3 separate regions of the Homo sapiens genome follow, and regions 1 and 2 are each linked to region 3. Evidence: fine-mapped expression QTL. A gene starts in region 3. Each other region holds a variant in brackets. All regions are shown on one strand. Distances are between the middles of the regions.

Region 1 (8,183 bases), 84 kb after region 3:
CTCTGAACCTAAAGGTAGTGCTAACCCTAACTCTAGCCTTATCTCTATCTCTTGTCATTAGTCCTAATCTTTACCTTAGAACTGTCTTTTTTCAGGGTAGACCTGTTAGGAAAAAATATTATTTAGGACTCTAGAAACTAGAAAATTAAAACTGAGAAGTAAATTTCAGATTAAATGAATAATCTATAAGCAGATCATCAGGAGGCCATGTTTAACAACATATCATGATTGGGTAGCCTGACCCTTCTGACTGGGGTAACCAAAGGCTGGGTTAGGTGTCTGAAGGACATTCTTGCTTCTGCTTTCCAACAATAAGCATGCCTAATATGGGTTGCTATAAGAATTCAGTAAATATATCCAAGAAACAAAATCTAAATTGAGAGTACATAGACTTCACAAGGTGTATGCTAACCTTAATCCCAGTCTTCCTGGACTCCTGAAGTGTAACACTTTTTTTCTCCAGAAAAATTCTGGAACACCGATGCCTCACTGACTCATCCACTTATGTCTAAATCCCATTATGACCCCATCCAGACCTTACCAGCTAGGACTTATCTAGATTAGACTGGTAGTCATTACAGCAATGCCCAGGTTAGAGAGGTAATATTAGATACTGTATTACATTGAGAGACTTCACAACCAAGCTGAGGAAAAATGATTAGCATCCATAAGACAATGAGAGAATTTGATGGGATGAAACATAACTCAGTGTTGTGTTATATGTTGTACAGACTTGGATACTGAAATGGTTTAAAGTGACAGCTATGAGTGGACACAGTGGAGAATATTTTCCCTCATTTGTATACCAGTTAACAGCTCACCAAAACTTTATAACACATATCCAATCCTTCCTAGGATCTTGGGAGGTTGAAAGGGCAGGTATTAGTGAAATTATTCTTATTTTGCATATGCAGAAATAGGCTCAGCAGAGTTAATTATTTGCCCCCACATTTTCCAGTGAAAGTGGTTCATTTCAGACTACAACTCAAATGGAACAATTTCAGATACAATAGGAAGTTCATTCTATTTCATGGAATATATGAGACTCACACTGGTCCTTAGAGGACTGCATGAAGTTAAAGAGATTAGGAGGAACAAAGGAGTATTCTGACTGGTTAAGAAATATAAGGAGAAGGCTGGGTGCAGTGGCTCACACCTGTAATTCCAGCACTTTGGGAGGCCAAGGCGGGCAGATCTCTTGAGGTCAGGAATTCAAGACCAGCATGGCCAACATGCTGAAACCCCGTCTCTACTAAAAATACAAAAATTAGCTGGGAGTGGTGGCATGCACCTGTAATCCCAGCTCCTTGGGAGGCTGAGGCAGGACGATCGCTTGAACCCGGGAGGTGGAGGTTGCAGTGAGCTAAGACTGTGCCAGTGAGCCAAGACTGTACCACTGCACTCCAGCCTGGGCAACAGAGTGAGACTTTATCTCAAAAAAAAAAAAAAAGAAAGAAAGAAAGAAAAGAAAAAGAAAGAAATATAAGAAGAAGGCAGGAAGCTGGGAATGTGATAGGGAACAGCAGACAAGTGGGAGTGGATGAGGAAAGATTGAAGGGAAAAGTGGAGCTTTGAGAGTCAGGCAAGTTGTTTATATTTCATGCAGGGTTTCACTAAGAAGTCAATGAAGTTTTTGAGCCTGATAGTGATATAAGGAGGATCATCGGAATCACCTGATAGTGGTTTTCCGGGCAAATGGGAAGAGGGAAGCCCTAAGGACCAGGCAGGTGGCTTTTGGGTGGGGCTGCAAGGAAAGGATGGGAATGCAGTGGCAGGAGTTGTTATAAAATGGAATGAAACTGGTTTAAAAAAAGGCAATTAAAAAGCCTAGGGTTCGATCATGATAGATAAAGAAACTGAAAATATCAAAGAATTCCGCATTTCCAATAAGTAGTTATATGGCCTCAGGCAAGTCATAGAGTCTCTCTTGGCCCCTCATCTCCCCTAGGTCACTGAAATTATGTGCATAGAATTATTGGAATAATCTATTTCTCTTAATGAAGAAGGATAACTTAAAGATGGCAAGAAAGATGCTCTCAATAACATTATTTAAAATAGTAACTGGAAAATATCTAAATGCTCTATAATGGGGGAAGAATGAAACAAATTATAAGTATTATGTAGAAATTAAAATCACATTTAAGAATATGGGGACCACCGGTTGCGGTGGCACATGCCTGTAATCCCAGCACTTTGGGAGGCTGAGGCAGGCGGATCATGAGGTCAGGAGATTGAGACCATCTTGGCTAACACGGTGAAACGCTATCTCTACTAAAAATACAAAAAATTAGCTGGGCATGGTGGCAGGCGCCTGTAGTCCCAGCACTTTGGGAGGCTGAGGCAGGAGAATGGCATGAACCCGGGAGGCGGAGTTTGCAGTGAGCGGAGATCACGCCACTGCACTCCAGCCTGGGTGACAGAGCGAGACTCCGTCTCAAAAAAAAAAAAAAAAAGAAGAATATGGGGACATAAATGCTCATAATATAATGGTAGGTGGAACAGGACACAATGCTATCCAAATATTACTAAAAATAAATATGTGAATAGGAAAAAAAGAATTGGTTGAGAGAGATTATCTCTGGCTGATGGTAATGTGTCTGATCTGCACTACCATTTTTATACTTTGTACATTTCTGGAATTTCCAAATTTTGTACAATAAGCCTTTATTACTTTTATCATGAAAAAAATTTAGGAAAAAAGAAAAAAGGCATGAGATTATCTACTACTACTTAAAATCTTTAGATGTGTCCCTTATAACTGTTTCAAAATAAAATATCAGAATGAATAGAGAGGTAGCATCCTTCTCTATCTGACTTAGAAAATATGAGAGAAGTGGAATAGATTCTGACACATGGCTAAGAGAGAGAGGTGACCTTCATAGAAGAGAGAGAGCAGAAAAGAGAAGAGGATCAAATACTGCAGTAACAAAGCTGAGATAGCTGCTTTAACTGAACGGAAATCAGAGTCCTTGTCAGTGAAGTAGGCTGAGTTTTGGGAGCTGTTTATAGCTCCAATAAATACAAAATCAACTCAGGAAGTAGATAAGAATGAATTTATGTCACAAATGAAAACAATGTTTTATTGCACAAAATATTTCATTAGGTTTGCTAACTTCAAGGAGACCTTTGCTAGGATTCCTCTTGGTTTTCCATTAGGACTGCACAATGTTTTCAATGAATGTGTATTGAGGCATAAAGGAAAATCCACCATCCAGTGACATTATGAAACATCCATGTGTTGAGAATTTTTCATGAAGTTATATAAAACCACATAAAATATGTCTAGGAAATGAGACCACAAATGTATGCTTGAGGAGAATAATAATAGAAACTCAACAGAATAATTATCTTAATATCTTGATATTGATTCATGGTAATTCAGTTTTGTGCTTAGAGAGCAGATAATATAAGACAACAGGGCTGCTCATTTGAGGGAATATGGAATAGCAAAACTGCCCGTGACTCAGTTTCTTGCTAAATGTATTTTTCACGATTTTTCACTATTACTTAAAATGAAAACCATGGAAACTATCTTTAACAGGTAAGTTTCTGGTAAATAGAGCCTTCCACTTTAATTATCTTTGATTTTATTTTACTTTTACTTGTGTGTTATTGTTGTTATTCCACCAAATATTTGCTATTCAAAGTTCAGGAAACTCCCCCCAGATGTTTTTTTTTCCTCCCTGCAATTTGCACTGGCCTTGCCCAAGTTCACCATCACTGTCTGTTCTGGGTGTTACCCCACCTTATCACTAGATGAAGCACACTAGAGGTCTCTGCAAACCCAATAAATACCAAATCTGGAAAGAATCAGGGTGATAGAGGCAGAAAGCAGAGAAATCCTAGGTAGACAGGGGTGGTCAGGTCCCCAGTGAAACCCCACCTTCAAGTCAAAAATGACTTAAAGCCTGAAGGCCAAGCTACAAGCCAAATCCACAGACCGGATTGAGAAACTGTCTTCCATTTGGCATGCTTTCCTTTGAGTGAGCCCCAAACTTCAACGATTTTACATATACCTACCCTTCCCTAATTGTTTTTACGCTGTGCCCACCTTTTACTGGTGCCTTTGTTTTAACCTTTTTTTTCCATACTCACACACCAATCAGCATGCACACCCCTAGCCCCAGATTCAGCCACATCAAGAAGAGATGACCTGACTTTGGCAAAGACAACCTGACCTTCCCAACCCTCTCCAGTTCCCCTCTCTGCTGAGAGCTGATTTGTGACTCATTAAA[A/C]TTCTCTGCTCTCATCACCTTTCAATAGTCAGCATGACCTCATTCTTCTTGGACGCTGGACAAGAGCTCAGGACCCACCAAGCAGGGGTACCCAGTAGGGCTGTAACACTTGCCCTTTGCCCTTGCTGGTGGAGGGCAGCCACCCCACACAACAGAAGCAGTGGCAGAGCTAAGACAGTCCCAGAGCCGTGGGCCAGAACAAGTCAAGGGGCCAACTGAGCTTGCTAATACACCGCAGTCTATTGAGCTGCGGATGGCAGAACTAAAAGAGCTAATTAGCAAACTAACACCTCCTCTGGGGCTTTGGAATCACGGGCACCCCTGCCTGGGAGCTGCTGCATTCCCCTCAGGGTGACATGCCTGGTCTGGCCGCAGGCCCTGCATGGAGTTTGCTCCTGTGTCAGCACTCAAAGCAGCCCACTGGACCCTGCACTTGCTTACTCACATGCTCCCTCCCACCAGGGGCTGAGCACGTGGGCCAAGTAGATGAGGCTCCCCCTGCTGCAAGTCCGACAAAGGGCCAAGAAAAATTCTGTATCAAGGGCTCAGTCTTTCTGTCTGGTTTTTTTGAGGATCAGCTTGTCATTAGTCTTTGGGTATACCCAGAGAAATACCGTTTATTTTCTTTTCTGCCATTTTTACAAATATGAGTACAGCCGAGGAAATTAGCACATGTGGGTATACCCAAAAGTCAGGGGAGCTGGGAGGGATAGCGTTAGGAGATATACCTAATGTAAATGACGAGTTAACAGGTGCAGCACACCAACATGGGACATGTATATCTCTGTAACAAACCTGCATGTTGTGCACATGTACCCTAGAACTTAAAATAAGAAAAAAAAGAAAAAGAAAAAAAAAGAAAATAAATGAACATAGTGCTTAGAGGAAGAACTTGACTTTCTCACTACCCAGTGTCTGTAATTCTAGCCTATATTGTATGTGACCAGTGGGCAAAACTGCTCTCTACAGAGCAGGAGGATTTTTCCCAGTTGTAAGATATTTGCTCAATACTGATTATCAAAATAAACACTGTAAGATTGTTTGCTTATATCAACATAGAGGGAGCCAGAAAACAAAAGTTTCCATTTTGATACAAAATTTTTAAAGATGAACCTTGTTAGAATATGTTTGCACCTTTAAAATAGGAGGTGGAAAATAAACAGTGCTGGGAAGGAAGGACAGAAGATAATAATAAAATGAGACCTTTTGACCTTGTTTATATAAATGAAATAATTAGGCCCAAGATGGCTTTTCTGTTGCAAACTTCTCATCTCATGTTTTAACTTGAATGACTGTCAAAATAAACTGCAAGTTTCTGTACCATGTGTAATTGGTGTGACATCTGGGGCTCCATCAGAGGCCACTGTTTCTCTAACTTTAGCTAACCAGTGTGCTTCCTGTAGCGTGCTTTGGATCAACTGTCAGAGCCAGAGTCCAATTACCCTCTGGCACCTTTTCGAATCCTCTCCTCTTCTCTCTCTCTGTTTGACTTGCAGAAGTGTCCCTTCCTGCCCTTATATCATTCCTGTGCTGAAAAAGCTTATTCTCTTACCAAATATATATAAGCAGAGAGCTAACAGGGTTAGCTATATCTATTTGAAGAATTTTAAATCATTTTTCAACTGTCAATTCCTCATTTGCTTGATTACATGTACATTTTACACCTTTTCCTTAGCAAGTGAGCCAAGATCGTGTGTTTTTTCATCCATGGCTTGGAGTCTAGGAGAGAAGGAGGATGAGGAAGAAAATAATTTGAAGATTTTACAGGGAGAAGGGATTGAAATTTTCACTGGAATGGAATGACTGGAATAAACAAAGTCGATCATGCCAGGCAGCTTAACTGAAAGCATTTTATATTTTAAGTTTCAGACATAACCCCTCAAAACCAAAGCAGAACCTCTTCAAGGAGCTGAGAGATGCAAGCCTGGTAAGTCACTGCTTAGGATTTGAACTTTCATCTGAAGCGGAATACTAGCAAGAATATATTTTAGGAGAAAGTGTTTGGGTCCTTCAAAATTCCGTCTTTGTTTTATCCATAACTGCAAAGATAGGAATTCTTGCATAATAGCAGAGGTAATTTGGGGTATTTTGCTAGGCGGCTTTGGGGCATGTTTTCCTTTGGAGGCAGGAGAATCAGGAAAATATTTGTTTCACCATCTAAACCTACTCAAGCATAAAATCAAATGACCAGTGGCACAGTATTTGAGGATTTAGGCAGCTTAATGACCTGTGAATTATGCTTTTCTTTCAATATATTCTGAAATATTGGCTGGTTGGATACACAGTCTTCATGAACATACACTGAGGGATAATTTTTTTTTTAAATAGAAAACTCAAGTTTATCTTGATTCAGAAGATCTAGTTCTGTTTTAATAAAATGGAATTGAAACTTTGCTCTTTGCCCTTCATTTAATATCTCATGGTTACAGAGATGGAGTCATGGCGAAAGCATTGAGTTGATGACAAATGCATTTCAAAGAAAACTGTGACCGGTAAAAGTATTAAGATGCCATGTGTTTCCAAAGAAAGGCTGGACAATGAAACTTCGAAAGACAGAGTTAGAAAAAAAGAACTTTTACTTTCCTCTTATCCATAAAAAAAATCTTTGTTTTTGTAATCAAATCCCCTAACTTAGCTTCTATACAGCCCTTTGCCCTCAAGTAAACAGGGAACTACCTGAATGTGAAATCATTGCAGCTTATTAAATGTCAAAGAGAGGCTTGTTAACCAGACATATTAGATAACCAATTCCATGCAGAGCAATTGCTAACAGAAAATGTCAGTGTTTCCTTTGAAGACAACTGATGACCACACAGAATGTGAACGTTTATAAATAATTAGAAAAAAAAGATTAGAAAGCATGCAACCTCATGTCATGCTATACATTCTTAAGGAGAATAAATGTTACAATTAATGTCATTAATAACAATGACCAAGTATCAGTGTGTTAGAGATTGTGTGGAATGTAGACACTGTTTCAGCCTAATTCCATAATCACAATTCTGTTAATGGGCAGGATATAAGCTAGGAGTGAGATTTTAAAAATGAGTGTGAGCTGGCAAGGTTGGAGGTGATGAGGTGGTAGGACTGTCTGGGGAATATTTGATGTACTTTTGTAGATATGAAAAGATAAGCTTCTCAGAATAACTCCTTCAGTCATGAGGATAGGATTTTTTTGGGGGGGAGGGGTAGGTGGGGTGTGGAATAGAGAATTTTATTTTTTTCCTTACTCAAAACAGGATATGCTAAGCCTAATAGTTTCCGTTTTGCCAACGATCAAGATGTGATTTCCCCCCTGATCTCTGCCCTTGGAATTTCATTTTCCTGAGATGGGGAAAGGAATGGAGCCTCTCCACCCTCTTTTGGGTGCTCATCTTCTCTCCAAAAAGGAGAACATGAAATCCCCATGAAGAAATTCTGGCCCAATCAGAGAAACTGTAAGATGTCTCTGGGATTTTAAAGGATCCATCTTTGGATGGGTCTGAGAAAGCCTGTGAACTTCCGGCAATATTATGCAGACTTGCTAGCTGAGGAACCACTCCTTGCATCAGCAGGCTGTTGGAAGGAAAAGCACTGGCTCAAGAGAAGGAGAGAAAAGTCTTTGAACTAAGCCTGCCTTTGAGACCAGGGCTGCTTCTGCTGCAGGGCTTACACCCTGTCTCTCAGGATATTCATGAACAGAATCTCCCTGCTTGTGCTTTGTAAAGGGTGTCTGTGTTTGGAGAAAGAGAGACTTCCTTCCCTTTGTAAACAAATACAGGTCAGCCAGGGAGATTTAAGAATGCGGTAACTGGGTTAGCCTTGCCCAAGCTGGGCTAGGGAGTGTCTTGGCTGTGGAGGAACTGAGGTTTTCTGGGGTGAATCTGAGTTGGATCCAACAAGGTTGAGATGAAGACTCAAGTGGGGTATCAGAACCCTGGAGCATTACAATCATAGCAGGGAAGACAG
Region 2 (8,183 bases), 22 kb after region 3:
AGGGGACCATGGCTCAGTCAATCCTCTCTCCGGCCCCAATGTCCTTATCTACACAATGAAAAACTTGCAGGGAAAGGAATCTAAAAGTCCAAAATTTGACCCTTCCATGAATCATGAGAATCAGACAACAAATTAGCCTGAGAATCTGAGTTAAGTGTGATTAAAAGCATATTCTATACGTTTCTAAATTTCAGCAAATATTTATGTTTATAATAAAGAACAAATGAGAAATGAAAAAGAGCAATAAATGAGAAAGATTTTAATAGTGCCAACAATCTGGTTTTTCCAGCTCCTGACAAGGTTTATCCAGTCATCAATCTATGCCTTTTCTTCTCTCACAAATTAGGCACCTAATGGTTTGAGGTTTAAGTGAGAAATGACTCAAGACTAAAAATTCTGGTTCGTCAGTTGGACTAGAGGCATTTTCCTATAATCGCTTAACTTTTTATTTTCATTCTTCAAGATTAATTTGAAATCCACAGGCAGGCCAGTTATATGTAGCATTGATGTGTCACAGTGATGGCAGTTTGCTGGAGCCTCAAAGGAACAAGGTTCTATCTAGCCTGGGCAATGTAGTGAGACCCCATCCCTACAAAAATTTTTCTTAATAACCAGGTGAGGTGGATCGTGCCTGTAGTCCCAGCTGCTTGGGAAACTGACGAGGGAGGATCACATGAGCCCAGGAGTTTAAGGCTGCAGTGAGTTATGATTGCACCACTGCACTCCAGCATGAGTGACAGAGCAAGACTCTGTCTCAGAAAACACACAAACACACACACATACACACACAAATCAAGGATCTGGAAGGATATAAATGCCCTCCTGTGTTTCTCGTGATGCAGCATCTAGATGAATTTCAAAACTGCTTTGCCGTCTACCGAAGGTCAAATGAGGTCTGATCCACTGCCCATCGGCTAGTGGTGATTAGTGAGAGCTGATGCAGAGGAGACTTTGGAGATTAGACACGGTGATGGGATTCCCACACCTGTGCAGCCTTCCCAAATCCTTCCTACATTCCCAGCTTGTTGTCCAGCACTCTCAAAATAAGTGTTACAAATGCATGGGCACCCATATGGAGCTGATATGTTTGAATTTTTTCAATGACAAGTTTCTAAGATCAAATTCAACAGTAAAAATAAAAAATACATGTCAAGTGCTAGTATGTTCTAAGCACAGTGGTTGGTAGGGGAATATGTGAAAAAGCAAGATAGAGAAGCTTCTGCCGTCAAGGTTTTAGTCCAGTGGGTAAGGGACTAAAAATCGATTGATCAAGCAAAGATTTTAATAGGTTTCTGCCAGGCTCCTATTTGCAGAAGACCAGGATTATTAGGGCAAAAACATCACTCAGACTTTAAGCGTCCTGCCCATCACCTTCTCTCCCCAATGTGGTTACCTGAAACCCCACACATGACAGGATGGATTTAAACACTCAAAACACGAATGAAGTATCCTCTTCTCTTATCTCCCTGGGAGTCTGCTCCCTCTTCTGTCTTTGCCTGGCTCTAATTTTGTCCTCTGACTACTGTATACTTTGAAATTAAGAAAATGGACAGAATGGGCCAGGTGCGGTGGCTCATAACTGTAATCTCCGCACTTTGGGAGGCCGAGGTGGGTGGATCATGAGGTCAGGAGATTGAGATCATTCTGGCTAACATGGTGAAACCCCGTCTCTACTAAAAATACAAAAAAAAAAAAAATGATCTGGACATGGTGGCGGGCACCTGTAGTCCCAGCTACTCGGGAGGCTGAGGCAGGAAAATGGCATGAACCCAGGAGGCAGAGCTTGCAGTGAGCTGAGATTGTGCCACTGCATTCCAACCCGGGCGACAAAGCGAGACTCCGTCTCAAAAAAAAAAAAAAAAAAAGAAAGAAAATGGACATAATGATCACAGGTTATTACTTCCATCCACAGTTTATTACCTCCATCTGCCTTGAGCTGTGTGTGTTTCTAGATCCCATGGCATAGATAGACAACACAATGTTGGCTTCCATGCAGGTGTAAGTGACATGTAACTTATGCGCAGCATATATCCATGTGGACTTTCTCATTCCTCACCCCTTTTATTCTCTCCAGCTGCTTCGTACAACTGGATATGGGATTGAGGAAAAGAGTTCAGAGACCACTGCTTTATGTGAATTGGTGTATCCTTTAAGAAACTATTCAAGGCCGGGTGCGGCGGCTCACACCTGTAATCCCAGCGCTTTGGGAGGCCGAGGAGGGCAGATTACCTGAGGTCAGGAATTTGAGACCAGCCTGGACAATATGATGAAACCCTGTCTCTACCAAAAGTATAAAAATTAGCCGGGCATGGTGGTGCACACCTGTAGTTCCAGCTACTCGGGAGGCGGAAGCAGGAGAATTGCTTGAGCCTAGGAGGCAGAGGTGGCAGTGAGCTGAGATCTCACCACTGCACTCCAGCCTGGGCAACAGAACGAGTCTCCACTTGGCACAGGCGGTGGGTGGGGGGTGGGGGGAGAAGAAACAATTCAAGTAGCCTTCCATGAAACAAGAAAAGCTTACACTAATTGAACATTTACTATGTGCTGGACACTGAGTATCTTACGTGTTTTAATTCATTTAACCGTCAAAGTAAACCTTTTGTTATATCTGTGTTACAGATGAGGAAAAGAAGGCAGAGAAGTTACTTGCCAAAGATTAAGAGTGGAAGCGCTTGGATATCAGTCCAGGTTGTTAGATTCGCATGTTTGTGTCCTTAACCTTTATGCATTATGCCTTCCTGGAATGAAAAATGGATTAGGAGTCTTCTTTGTCACATTTCACATTCCTCTTGAATTTGTGTCAGCAAAGTTGCAAACCTAAAGTATGCTCGGCATCCACAGCATCATCCACAGAATCTAATCTATCTGCAACGCTGGCCTCCCTGCCATGAAGCAACAGCATATCTCTGAGTCACTGTTGGCGTGAGCATCTGGCTAGCACTTACTGTTTCCAAGCCAGCATGCCTGTCTGAAAGTGAAGCTGTCTAACCAGCTTTTCAACTGACATCGCATGGGGAAATAATTTTTCAAGGCGACTCTTTACTTTTATAACTTCCTTGGATAGTCGTATTGTTTGAGTGGTTATGAAACACAGCTTGAAAAGTATTCTTTGATTTAAATACTTAGAGACGTAGTGAATGAAGCATAACAATTTTTAGTCATTGCAAAATGTTTTGCCTCCGTCAAGTATGCTTCATTATTTGGATTGTTGAATGGTCAATCAGTATAATGCTTTTGAAAGGGAAACCATTCTCTGAAAATCGTAAGC[G/A]TATTTATTAATAGTAATCATTTCCTGCTTCTTGACCTTCATGGATGTAAATCTATGCTGTCTTAGGTCGTTTGATTGTTTCACATGTGTAAATCTTGACTGTACATCCAGATTTTAAATTCCTTAAGGACATATCAAGACAGCTAAGCACACAATAAGTGTAAAACCTAATAAATACTGTTGCCAAAACAAATAGAAAATATACAGATACTAAATTATCATTAGGTACTAAAAATTAATTTTTTTTTTTTTGAGACAGGGTCTCACTCTGTCGCCCAGGCTTGAATGCAGTGACATGATCTCGGCTCACTGCAAACTCTGCCTCCTGGGCTCAAGATATTCTCCTGCCTCAGCCTCCAGAGTAGCTGGGACTACAGGCGTGTACCACCATGTCCGGATAATTTTTGTATTTTTAGTAGAGACAGGGTTTCACCATGTTGGCCAGGCTGGTCTCGAACTCCTGACCTCAGGTGATCCACCTGCCTCGGCCTTTCAAGGTGCTGGGATTACAGGTCTGAGCCACCGTGCCCGGCCTAAAAATTAAGTTTTAAATGATGAACAACATTTCAGAATTTATTTTGGAAAAAACTATTTAATCCCCAAGCGAGAAGCGAGTGCAGCCTCCTTTTTATTTATGTTGTAGTTAAAATTAAATGACACATCTTCATGAGTATAATGGAATAGTTATTTTTATAGGGCATTAAAAAAAGAATAACATGAGTTTCTGAAGGACATTCAATTCCATAAACAAATATACTTGTCTTTCCCACAGTAGAATTTAAAATAAAGTACTCAGCCTTTATGTTTGTATTTTTTACATTATTATTACAAAGAAGGCCATTTCTATCCCCATCCATGTTGCACCCTCGCTTCCCAACCTCGGCGGACCTAGAAGCCTTTGAGAGTGGCCTTCACAAGAGGGCTGTCTATACCCAATCCATGTCCTGTCCACAGCCGTACAAAGAGGCAGACCCACAAATAAAATCTAAATCTTTGAGCCAGAAGCATCAGCGATCACCTTCTATTGTTACTGAGTCCAAATCAAGGGTTTTAATTTTGGGGATTTTGGTGTGATGTCTGGCAATATTAATGCAGATGATGAACAGTTTTATCTTTTAGTATTAGTTGGTTTTTTTGTTGTTGTTGTTTGCTTTCAGAGACAGAGTCTTCCTCTGTCGCCCAGGCTGGAGTGCAATGGTGCTATCATGGCTCACTGCAACCTCTGCCTCTGGGGCTCAAGTGATCCTCCCACCTCAGCCTCCCAAATAGTTGGGACCACAGGCATGTGCCACCATGCCCGGCTAATTTTTGTATTTTTTTATGTTGTTGTTGTTGTTGTTGAGACAGAGTCTGGTTGTGTTGCCCAGGCTGGTCTTGAACTCCTGGGCTCAAGCAATCCACCCACCTCGGCCTCCCAAAGTGCTGTGATTCAGGCATAAGCCACTGTGTCCAGCCAGTATCATGTTCCTAAACAGTGCCTTTCACATAACTGGTCTTCAACTTGGAAGCTAGCATACACATGACCTTGAGGAATGACCCATGATAGACGGCTGTGGAAAGACAAGGGCAAAAAGGCCAAAAAGGCAATGAATGTTTTATACAATGACTCTCTCAAAACAGGTGAAGAGAGGCATGAGATGAAACATACAACGCTATTAGGGAATCCAGGCTCGGGGGTGAGAAGCACATTCTCACCAGTGTGCAAGCAGGGTGGTGAAGATACAGGCATAGAGAGAGACAAAGAAGAGGTGCATGACAAGCTAGCGGGAGAGAAAGGACAGATATTCCCAAGGAAACCTAAAGAAAGCTACTCTGGGCAAGTCATCTCCAGGCCTCAGTTTTCTTAGCTTCAAAATGAGAAGAGTGGATTATTTCTCAGTGTTATAGCAACTCACAGAAACTAACTCTAGCAGGCCATTGCAAAAGCAAGAATGTACTGGAAAGATGCTGGAACATGTAGAATCCAAAGAAGGGTGGAAAACTAGGCCACAGAAGCAACAGAGACCAGAAAGCTCCAGAAAGCTGAATTTGTGGTTTTCTTTCAAGCATCTTGCTGTGCACAGGATTCAGCTACAATCCCCTTCCCTGCCTCCAATCCCCTTCCCTCCCTCCAATCCCCTTCCCCGCTCCAATCCCCTTCCCTCCCTCCCATTCCCTTCTCTCCCTCCAATCCCCTTCCCTCCCTCCCATTCCCTTCTCTCCCTCCAATCCCCTTCCCTCCCTCCAATCCCCTTCTTTCCCTCTGCGTCTCTCAACTTGGAATTTTCAATTTCTAGAACAGGCAGTCTGCTCAGCCCAGGGTGGGTCAGCTGTTCACACCTGGATTCATCACTATGACCAGGAAGATTGGATCTTCAAGTACAGCCATAGCTATTGGCTCACCCTGTGTTTTGGGTAGGAATGAAGCTAGGTGACAATTTCCAGAGAAAGGCAAATAGATGAGATCTGGGTGCCCACTCCAATATGTTTTTAGTTCTACCTAAAGTTTAAGTAAAAATAATGTAGTTATGAAAATATTTACAAGTAGGTAAAATAAATGCCTTAACGTATGACTAAAGATGAATAAGGTTGATCAGGAAGAGGTTCTTGGAAGCAAGAAGGTTTATGAATGGAAACTTAAAGATTTGATGAGTCGCTGTCTATTCCAGGTAGAGGGAAGAAAATGCACAGAGACTCAGAGAGTCATTTTTTTGGGGAGAGCAACCACTTTGCTGGAGTAGCCCAAAACATTAAAGTCAGAGAATAAAGAGCTTTAAAGTTAATTAGATTAGAGGTAAGATAATTTGGCAAGGGCTTGTAGGTGGGAGGCTACCCAGGGGAGCAGCATGTTATAATGGAAAAAGCATTTTAATAGCGTCCAGGAAGCCTGGATTCTGCCATGAATTAGCAGTTTCTGTTTGGGTAATCAAGTTCCCTTGGCTTCAGTGTAGTCACCTGTAAAAGAAATCTATAATTCCACCACGGGCAATTGCATTTTATTTGTTTATTTAAAAAGTGTTCATTGACCAACTACTATGTGCCAGGCAGAACTCTAAGCGCTAAAAATTCAGCAATGAAACAAAACAAACTGCTTTCCCTTGTGCAGCTTTATTGATACCTAATCAGTAAAGTAGGAATCAGAACAATGATTAATTCAGATACATGACGATCATAAGTCTTGCCTTATTTTCTTTTTCCTGCATTTCCTGTATACACTTCCTTTCCAGAGCCTCCTCTTGGGGCTACATGATTCTTTAGACAGCTCTCTCCCTCTGCTCTATCAGATAGTAGTTTCATCATCAGAAAATATTTGCCAAAGTCTTAAATTGGAGTTCTTGAAGAGTCCCCCCAAAATAGTGCCACTCTTTTTCTTCCCCCTCAAGTTCTGAACTAATTAAAAAATAAGGGGAAAACATTTTGTTTCCAAGATGGCGGATTGGAGACACTGTTAGCCTGCCTCTCCCCTTGGAAAGACAAAATAGAGTGTAGGGATTTATGCTGTGAACTTTTTTCAAAGAAGCAACACAAGAACTTAACAAAACAACGGAAAGAAACTACAGACCCTTTGAAAGAAGCAGAAGGCGGCAGCCTACACCATGAATGAGCCAGGCAGAAAACTGTGAGTCCCTAGAGCATGAGGTGGAAGACGCTGCCTCCATGATATTCACTCCTACTGTGGGGCCTGGCAATCCAGGCCATGGGGTGAGGCCTTAACCCTGCCCAGTGCTGATTTTGTAAGCGGTAGGGAGTGTATGAGAAGGAGCAGCATTGGGATGTGCTTTTTGTGCATTCCCAGACTCCAGCAGGGACAGAAGGAAGCCATTCATGATCCTACCTAATAGGGGACCTTGCAGAAATCAGCCAGCTAACTCAGGTGGTGGTCACAGGTTGAGAGAAGCTCCCAACTGAGATTTGTGATATAATTTTGAGTGGTGATGAACCCCCTTGTCCAGAACTGAGGCACAAGCAGTGTGTGTGCTTTAGCCACACGTGCAGGAGCTGATTGTGCTGTTTCACAGGCAGACCAGGAGAAGTGTAGTTGGAAAACCTCAGTTTCTGTCTGGATAGGGAAGGTTTATAGCCTGGGGCAGTTCTGGGTTCAGAGTGCAGGCTAACTCCAACCCAGCTAGCTGCTGCTGGTGGAACACTGCATGTGTGAGACCTGCCTTGCCAAGCGCATGGGAGCTGGATAGGGCTTACTGCTGCCTGCTCCTCCCCACTCCTTGTGCAGATTCTTCTGTGCAGCAGAGGCAGCTTTGGTCCACCTGGATTATTACCCCAGTAGCCAGGGAACCGCCCTCCAATCTCCACTGGGGCCGCTGCTTGCACCTGTACATGGGAAAGTAGGATACAGCCTTGCCTGGCCCAGCGCCACCTGATTTTGTCCCTCTACCTACCCTGGTAGCTTAGTATAAAGGACAGGTAATTTTGAGAGCTCCATGGTGCCACCCATTGTCTGAGACACCAGAATACCTCCCCTGGATAACATAAGGCAAGCACAAATCCCACCAGTACCACTGCAACTGGCATTCTTTTGCAAGCACGCACCACCTCCTAGCTGGAGGCCAACCAATACATGCCATTACAACATTTGCAGGTACAGTAACACAGTGCCTAGGAACGAGTACACTTTTGCACAACCTTAGCTATTACCCAAGCCTGCATCACCCTGCCTAACCAGGAAGGCTTCACTCTGTCTACATGACCAGTACGTTACCAGTACACCTGGCATTTGAGAAGAACAACATACTAAGGTGATTTATAAGGAAGGAAATCTCACAGAGTCTACATCATTCCCATTCCAACACCATCAGAGTTGTTGCTGGTACCTGCTGCTGGAAGGCTAAAAGAGAGGTCACATCACTGGATCTTTTGTGGACATCCCCTAGCACCAGCCTGAAGTGTGGCAGTCCCACTGCACAGCTAGACCCAGAGA
Region 3 (8,183 bases):
CTACATGTGTTAACTCACTTAATCTTCACAATAACCCTTGGAGTCCAGCCCATCACTATGCCCATCTCACAGATTAGGAAGATAGAGCACAGGTCAGCAGCTGGTAAGCGGCAGAGCCGGGCAGTCCAGCTCTAACTCAGCTTCACTGTAATACACAACACAGAGGCCTTTTTGTGAGTTTATTTGTGTGCCCAGAATCAGAACAGCAGGATGTGGTGCCATGTATGAAATTTCAGAATGGAAGCCAGCAAATTCCTGCAGCAACAGAAACGCTGAACTGATGGTGCTTGACACAGGGCAGAAGCCTCCTCCTGGTCAACTGTAGCTAAGCTTAGGGGAGGCCAGGTGCACACACCCCAGCCAGGAAGGACAGCAAGGAACCGACTGTCACACTGACCCAGGTGTGGACATTGCTTACCCACGTATTCACCAGACACTTAGTCCCATTTCCCCTTGCACTTAGTCATCCACTTCGTCTCTACAATTTCCCCTTCCAAACAAACACTAAGAACAGCACAAAAAGCACAGCCTCTCACATGTGCAAGGAGGTTCATGGCACCTCTGTGATGAAATTCTCACATTATTTCCATTTTTATGTTGTTTTGTTTTACTTTTTATAGCAAACGTGGATTTCTAACATTAAAATTAACTAGTTCATCTTGAAGGAAAGACACTGGCTTCCTTGTGCCTCCAAGAATACTTGGGGGACCCAGCCGACAACTATCTGTGGTCAGGCCGTTGACGATGTGGCCATTCTGCCACTGCTGAATGGTACTGGTGTAAATCACCTGTCCCCCTCACCCTCTAATTCCCAACCCCTAACCCCCGCTCCAAGGCTTTCTCAGACCCCAACTCAAGCTCAGCACAGTACACCCAAGACACCCAGAGGCACTCCAGCCTCAACTCCCAGCTCCGCCTCTAGTGAGCGGTGTGACTCTGTGCTGTCACCTCACCTCCTTGGGACTCAGTTTCCTCATCTGTGAAACGAGGACTGGTTCAGTCTGTGACTTCTAATGTGTGGGTATCTGACATAATCTACTGTGAAGCGAAGGAGCCTGGTGGAGCCAGGGTAGAAGAAATAGAAATCAGGAAATTAACTAACTAGGGCTTTCCTACTTTCACTCCCTGACAAGGAAGTAATCATTGCTGATACTGATTCAAACTCAGAGGACTTTCCCATACTATATCAAGGGCAGCAAATCTCCGGTTATTCAAGATCCAACAAAGGAATAGCTCAGCTAACACAGCCCCTTTCTTAAAAGAGAGAAATGATAAGCAACAAGCCCACACCTGCTATTTATTCTGAACACCAATTGCTAAAAGGTCAGAGAATCCGTTGTTTTCCATGATACCATAGATTTGGCCTGATTCTCACACCTTCACACTGTTCTACAATACAACTGTCTTTTGAATAACTCTGAGACCTAAACAAAATACAATTTTAAAAGGCCTTAGATACAGGCTAAATCATAAAAATAGTAGGCGGGCACAGTGGTTCTACATGTAATCCCAACACTTTGGGAGGTGGACATGGGTGGATTGCTGGAGCTCAGGAGTTCAAGACCTGCTTGGGCAACATGGCAAAACTCCGTCTCTACATAAAGTATAAAAATTAGCCAGGCGTGGTGGCCCGCACCTATAGTCCCACCTACTTGGGAGGTTGAGGTGGGGGGATCTCTTGAGTTGGAGAGTTTGAGGCTACAGTGAGCCGAGATCGCACCACTGCACCACAGCCTGGGTGACAGAAGGAGACCCTGTCTCAAAAATTAAAAACATTAGGTCGGTGCAAAAGTTATTGTGTTTTACATGGCCAAAAAAAAAGTAACTGCGGTTTTTTTTACGTAAAAACCGCAATTACTTTTGCACCGACCTAATAAAATAAAAAATAAATAAAAGTATTGTGGTATGGACAGTGTAACTATAACATTAACAATACAGTTTGAATTCTAATTCTTTTAAAACAGCCAGCTCTGTGGTCCAACTTTGTTTTCTTATTGAAACTTTATCTTATTCATCTACCAGCAAAAGGGCTGTTTTTGAGGATGAAACAAATTACCAGAGATGACAGCAGTTTGTAAATATATACTATTCTTCAGAAATTTGAGATTACTGTACACACAGATTTAGTATACATAGAGAATTCCACTCATATGCCAAATCTATGCCCCTGTATGCTTTCCACTTATTTATTCACTATTTTAAAATAATCGTACCCAAGTCGTTGTTTCTATTAAACCAGCAATCAAACGAAAGCCTTTGGAGCGATGAGGAGCATCTGTTTGAAAGGGGGAGGTGCCACGCTTGCTGCTTCTCTAAGCTCCCTGGGAAGGGAGAGACAACTCAGAAAACCTACAAACTGTAGCTCCTTCCGGTGCCCGCGTGACCCCCGAGTCCAGGAGCGGGCAGGGGCGCCGCTTGGCTGAGCGCACTGGGCACCCGGTCTGGGTCTGGGCCAGCCCCGCCGCTGCAGCCCGAGGGAGGCGGCGCTGCACTGGCCTCCGCGCGCTCCCAGACCCCACGTGGGGGCGCCCCTGGGTGCCGGTGCGCGGGGAACGTGCTGCGGGGGTGCTGCGCCAGCTGCCACCGTTTCCCGGGACTTCCCTCCTGGAAGATTTCCATGCGCAAGTCGAGGACGTGCTCCTGCTAGGAGTCTAGAAACTCTAGGCCAGCCCGGACCCTCCCGGGGCCTGCACTCCCCGCGGGTGGAAGCACGCGCCGCGTGTCCCTGCCGGATTCCAGAACTTCCCCGAAGGTCCTCAGCCCCGGCAGACCCTCTCCCTCGAAGTTCCCCCGCCACCCCCTGCAAGCCCCCAGGCCCCGGGGACCGCCGCTCACCTAGCCAGCGGCTCCAGACACCGGACACCGGACACCGGACACCGGACACCCGCCGCGGCCGCTCTCGCCGCCCAACCCCGCACCTGAGCCCGCCCCGGGCGCCGCGAAGGGGTGGAGGCGGGGGTGAGGCTTCCGCCCGCCCGCTCTGGCCCCTGCGCCTCCCATGCACCCATGCAACCTCCGAGGAAATTCCCTTCCCCCTACTCCCACCCCACGCACACTCTCCCCAAAGCCTCGCCCCACCCCCAGCACCTACCAGTGCTGGGCGCCCCTGGGCAGGGTGGCTCGATCACCCGCCACATCCACTTGGCCGCCAGAAGCCGTCGGGGAAGGGAGGGAGGGAAAGGCAGAGGCGTCCCAAGCGGCGCAGGCGGGCTGAGCAAATACTCCGGCCCGGACGCAAAACAGCTCTTGTAGCCGTCCCGCCCGCGCCGCCCCGCCGCGCCCACATGCCGGGGTGACTGGCGGGGCGCAATCGCGGCCCCACCCGGGCGCCTGGAGGCTCTCCAGGGCCACTCGTCGGCGAGGCTGCGTGGCCTGCGCATCTCGGGCCGCCTGGCCCGCGCGCTGTCCCCGAGCTGCGGTAGTCCGGGGTAGGCTTGTCCTCTCCTCTCTTAGTTCATGAGACAGGGATCTGCAGTCTGTGATCTCTTGGGGACTGCAGGACTTAGATTAAATCTGCAGATCTGGGCCTTTCCACGTTTCAGAGCTCGGGGTTCCTTGCTAGGTGTAGGGTAGGAGGGTGCGCAGGCCCCACTTGTTCACTCTGCTTGGGTGCTGCAGGCCAAGGCGACTCTGGAGCTTTTTTTTTTTTTCTTTTGTTGACATTAAGTAAATGATCAAACTCTTTGGCACTTGTCGGTACACGTGTGGCTTTGTAGGACAAGATGAAGGAAGGAAAAGGCTGGAAGGAAGGAGACCGCAGTCAACACAGACAGGTGGAGAAAATGAAAGAAAACTGGGGGAAAAGTTAAGATGCTGAAAGGAGTCTTGAGGATTGCAACAAGAACAGGTTGGCTTGGTGCCTGAAGACGTCAGGGAGGAGCTGGCAGTCCACAGTTAGAGGAAATCTTGGAGGAAAATTGAGCAGAAGCACAGTGGAAAGGCATTTCCACTGGAGGGCATTTTCCATCCTAGAGGAGCATGTGGAAGAAAACCGCCTGCTTTGGTGAACCCCAGATTTTGTGTATTGGGAGAGATGTAATAAACAGTAAACACCAGTAGTCCTCTCCACGGACTACCTGACCTCTTTAGGAGCCTGACCTGCTGGATTCAAACACAAAATGGCATTTCCCTGCCTCTCCAAACTGCAGAAGCTGTGCAGAGTTACATCAAGCCTCGGGGCAGGCGGCATTGTCAGGAAATAAGACCCAGCTATTTAGGAACAATTCCAGGAATCCCATCAGGGAGGAATTTCTGGTGTAAGGCTTAGTTCCTACTGCAGTTTAAATGATAGCATATGGGGTGCTTTAGGCTGGAGTGGGATTGGCCCCTGGAAAGCTGCTATGACGAGGTCAGAATGAATCCTAGCCCTGCATGGATGCATCAGTTGAACCATACAGGGTGGTTTATCAGTTAGGAAAAATCCCACAGGACACTGTGACAGCCTACCTTCCTCACACCCAGTCTCTCTCCAGGTCCTGGCAAGTCCTTCCTTATAACAGCTTTATCACTGTGCTACTAACCTCTGTACCTCACTTTCCTCCTCTAGATAAAGAGTGTCTGCCTCGGTAAGTTGTCAAGAGGGTTAAATGAGATGCTACATGCAAAGAGATTAGAAGAGCTCTTGGCATGTGGTGAGTGTTCAAACACATTCACTCAGATCAGTTCATATCACATTAAGGTACTGGAATTCCACATTCCTGCCATCTCACCCTAGGCTGTGGGTTCTGCCCACCATGCCACCTACCTTCCAAGTCATTCCCAGGGATCCTATCCTCCTGGTATTCACATCCTTGCATAGCTCCCTGCCACTTTGTAAAGGTTGGTATGCTTGACCAATAGAACCCGGCAGAAGTGATGATGGTCTGCCACTTCAGAGATTAGGTAAGGAAACACCTTGGTGCTTCTATCTTGAAATAATATTGACAGCCCAAAGGAACGCACGCTGTACACAAATAATGCAAACAACTCAGAACCCAGACTCTCTTCCCTTTTCTCTCATCTGCCCATTTCCATCCTTCTTGTCTCGTGGCTCTTTCCTATATTTGCCATGAACTCTTCTTCTTCTCTTATTTTTATAGTTTCTTCTCCATCCTCTTCACTTGGTCTCCCCTCTCCTCTATCACCTTCTCTTTTTGTTTCCTTTCTGCTGACTCCTGGAATTTCCTCTTTTAATTGGCATGGTCTGGAAGAGAAAAGGTAGATGTTTTTCCCTTAATTTCAAAAGTAGACAATTCGAATTTTTTTTTTTTTTTTTTTTTTTGAGATGGAGTTTCACTCTTTTTGCCCAGGCTTGGAGTGCAGTGATGCAATCTTGGTTCACTGCAACCTCGGCCTCCTGAGTTCAAGTGATTCTCCTGCCTCAGCCTCCCAAGTAGCTAGGATTATAGGCACCTGTCACCACAACTGGCTAACTTTGTATTTTGTTTTTGTTTTTTTTTTTTGTTTGTTTGTTTTTTAGTAGAGACTAAGTTTGACCATGTTGGCCAGGCTGGTCTCAAACTCCTTACCTCAGGTGATCTGCCTACCTTGGCCCCCCAAAGTGCTGGGTTACATGCGTGAGCCACTGCGCCTGGCCAAGAATGTTTTATAATGCTCTAAAAAAAAATCAGGTGGCCTATTACTTGTGGGGCCTTCAGTTACTTTTTCCCTCCCTTTGGGCCAGTACTCTCAGAGGAAAACATTTCCCCCCTCCATGATCTAGGATGTGTTATAGGGACGAATGTGGGGAAGACTGCTGACAGGGGCTGGCCACTGACGAGTCACAGACATGGAACATGGTAGCACCAACATGTGTTCAGGAATGCTCTGCTGCAGCGTTCACTGCCAGAACTTAAAGAGAAAGCTAAACATCTATTTATTGGTTACTAATATTTTTAATTTGTCATTTATTCGTGGTAATGAATACCATGAAACAAATAGCCTACATTTTAATGGATGTGTTCCTTGGCCTTCCTTTTGGACTGTTGCTTAGGAGCCCTGCTGCCCAGGGCTGTCAAGTAAAATGGCATAGCATGGCCCTTGTACAACTGTGGGTGGGCAGGGGACAAGCACAGAGATCACTATGTGTAAGGCGCCCCCTGGAGTTGTGCAACACTGCCAGCCCTATTGTTGCCAGAAAGACAGGATAAGCCACTTTGCACTTTTTCTGAGATAAAGATTAATCCTTATTTCAGTTCTACAGACAATGAAAATTGCCTTCATATGTTTTCTTTATAAAATAGAGTATTTTTCCTGTCATATTTTATGATCAGCATCAGAAACCTCAACCACTTTTTAACTGTTAGAGCAGGTATACACTTGTACCACAGTGAATGTAACGTACAAATGAAAGAAAAATACAAAAACATTTAAACTTTACTAAAAACTGATCAAATCTCAAAATAAATCTTAATCAGTTCATCAATCATTAAAAATATATTTAGGGTCTGCTGTGTTTTCAGCTCTCTGTGAGCAGTTAGATTTGATTTTGAACTATTTTCATTTGTGTATGGTTCTGTATGGGCCTTTATTTCTTCATCTTCATAAACACCAAGATAAATTATTGGTCTTTACATTCATCTTTGAATCAATTACATTACTGTAATATTTAATGTTTTTCCAAGAGTTACCTTTATGGAGTTCTTTCTCTAAAATCCACACTCTGAGTTGCTAATTAGACATTTCTGGTCTCTCATATGTGTGTGTGTATATATATATATACATATATATATGTGTGTGTGTGTGTGTGTATGTGTATGTGTATATATGTATGTGTGTGTATGTATGTATGTGTGTATATATATGTTTTAGATGGAGTCTCGCTCTGTCTCCAGGCTGGAGTGTGGTGGCACGATCTTGGCTCACTGCAACCTCCACCTACCGGGTTCAAGTGATTCTCCTGCCTTAGCCTCCAGAGTAGCTGAGACTACAGGTGTGTGCCACCACGCCTGGCTAATTTTTTGTATTTTTAGCAGAGGCAGGATTTCTCCATGTTGGTCAGGCTGGTCTCAATCTCCTGACCTCGTGATCTGCATGCCTCAGCCTCCCAAAGTGCTGGGATTACAGGTGTAAGCCACCATGCCCGGTGGTTTCTTATATTTCTGTAATACAGTGACAAGCAGCCCGTGTCTCAGAGAACTGCTCACCTCAAACTTATGGGTGGAATTGGACAGTCGCTATCCCAACGATATGGGACATCTGCAGTGGCCTATGGTAACCAGTGCTTTTTTATGGGTCAAAGCTCTGAGAAAGGAGCAGAAGCAAACTTTTTCTAATATTCTGGTGTTCCTTGGATCTTCCCAGGCAGTTTTGATAAGGTCTACTAGACTCATAAAATCAAATCTCATCTCTTTTTTGGACCAGATTCAGAAATGCGTTTCCATTTCCTAGCTTCTCTCTTACAGGCAATCTTTGCAAAAAGTGCACAAATCCCTTTTAGTTTTATAAGGAATTTTCTGCAAATGAGTACAGCAGTTCTCAAGTACATATTAAAATAACCCAGGGAGATTTTCTTTGTAACATTTGCCTCTTTGTCTACTCCTCCAAGGAGTTATTTGATTGGGATGAGATGGAGCGCAGATATCAGCATTTTTTCAAAGCATCCAAGGGGATACTAATGTGTGGCCAAGGTTGAGAGCCACTAAAATATATGGAAATAAAGTTAATTGGCTATGAGAAATGTTGAAAAAGCAGTAATGGCACTTCCTGGACTTTACTGAAACATATATAAGGCTAGATAATCATCTTCTTCATTCTGGTTTTTGAGTGAGTTCCTAAACTCAGTCTGAGATAGACTTTCCACCAAACCCAGACTGTCATTTAATAGGATGGGAATGAAATGAGATGCATAAGATGACAGTGTCTGGCTTATTATGGGATGCGCAACATACACAAGTTTTACTTCTTTCCTTCCTTCCACTTCTTCCTGGTTTTGAAACCCCCGACATTCCCTCTGGCCCTTTAGCTGAGGAAGGCATTTCCCTCTTTGGCACCAAAGGCTCGCCCACTCCCACACACACCCCATGCATGGCTCCAAGTGTCCTCCAGATTTCTCTAACTGGAAGTTGAAGTGCATTCTGCCCTTTGGTAAAGTAAGACACTTTGCCTCTTCCTCTAAGTGTATGTTTGAATCAGAGCCAGCTTATGGCCTCTTCGATAAGTGCCATTGTTTAAGTTTGAAACAGAGTTGGTTTTGACTGGTGTGT

Direction of the effects. Alleles are on the strand shown, and positions count from the first base shown. SD is a standard deviation of normalised expression in the study named. Not every link is listed here.
For the expression in left ventricle of the gene that starts at base 3,222 in region 3, C is the low allele of the variant in region 1 and A is the other (small effect, 0.32 SD a copy in GTEx).

Evidence for each region.
Region 1: its variant is fine-mapped to the expression of SH2D4A in left ventricle (GTEx, PIP above 0.99).
Region 2: its variant is fine-mapped to the expression of SH2D4A in fibroblasts (GTEx, PIP above 0.99). The same link has a PIP of 0.9 or more in sun-exposed skin.

Annotation. Positions count from the first base shown.
Region 1 is chr8:19,225,147-19,233,329 of GRCh38, reverse strand. It overlaps LOC100128993 (a long non-coding RNA gene), which reads left to right. Exons shown (of 5, transcript NR_038919.1): 3 at 6,099-6,162. Among named protein-coding and RNA genes, the nearest start is that of SH2D4A, 84 kb to the left of the region's middle. The variant A/C (reference allele first, on the strand shown) is at 4,236.
Region 2 is chr8:19,286,411-19,294,593 of GRCh38, reverse strand. No RefSeq gene overlaps it. Among named protein-coding and RNA genes, the nearest start is that of SH2D4A, 23 kb to the left of the region's middle. The variant G/A (reference allele first, on the strand shown) is at 3,269.
Region 3 is chr8:19,308,732-19,316,914 of GRCh38, reverse strand. It overlaps SH2D4A (SH2 domain containing 4A), which reads right to left and starts at 3,222. Exons shown (of 10, transcript NM_022071.4): 1 at 3,092-3,222. LOC105379306 (a long non-coding RNA gene) reads right to left here. Exons shown (of 4, transcript XR_949550.3): 4 at 5,091-5,182.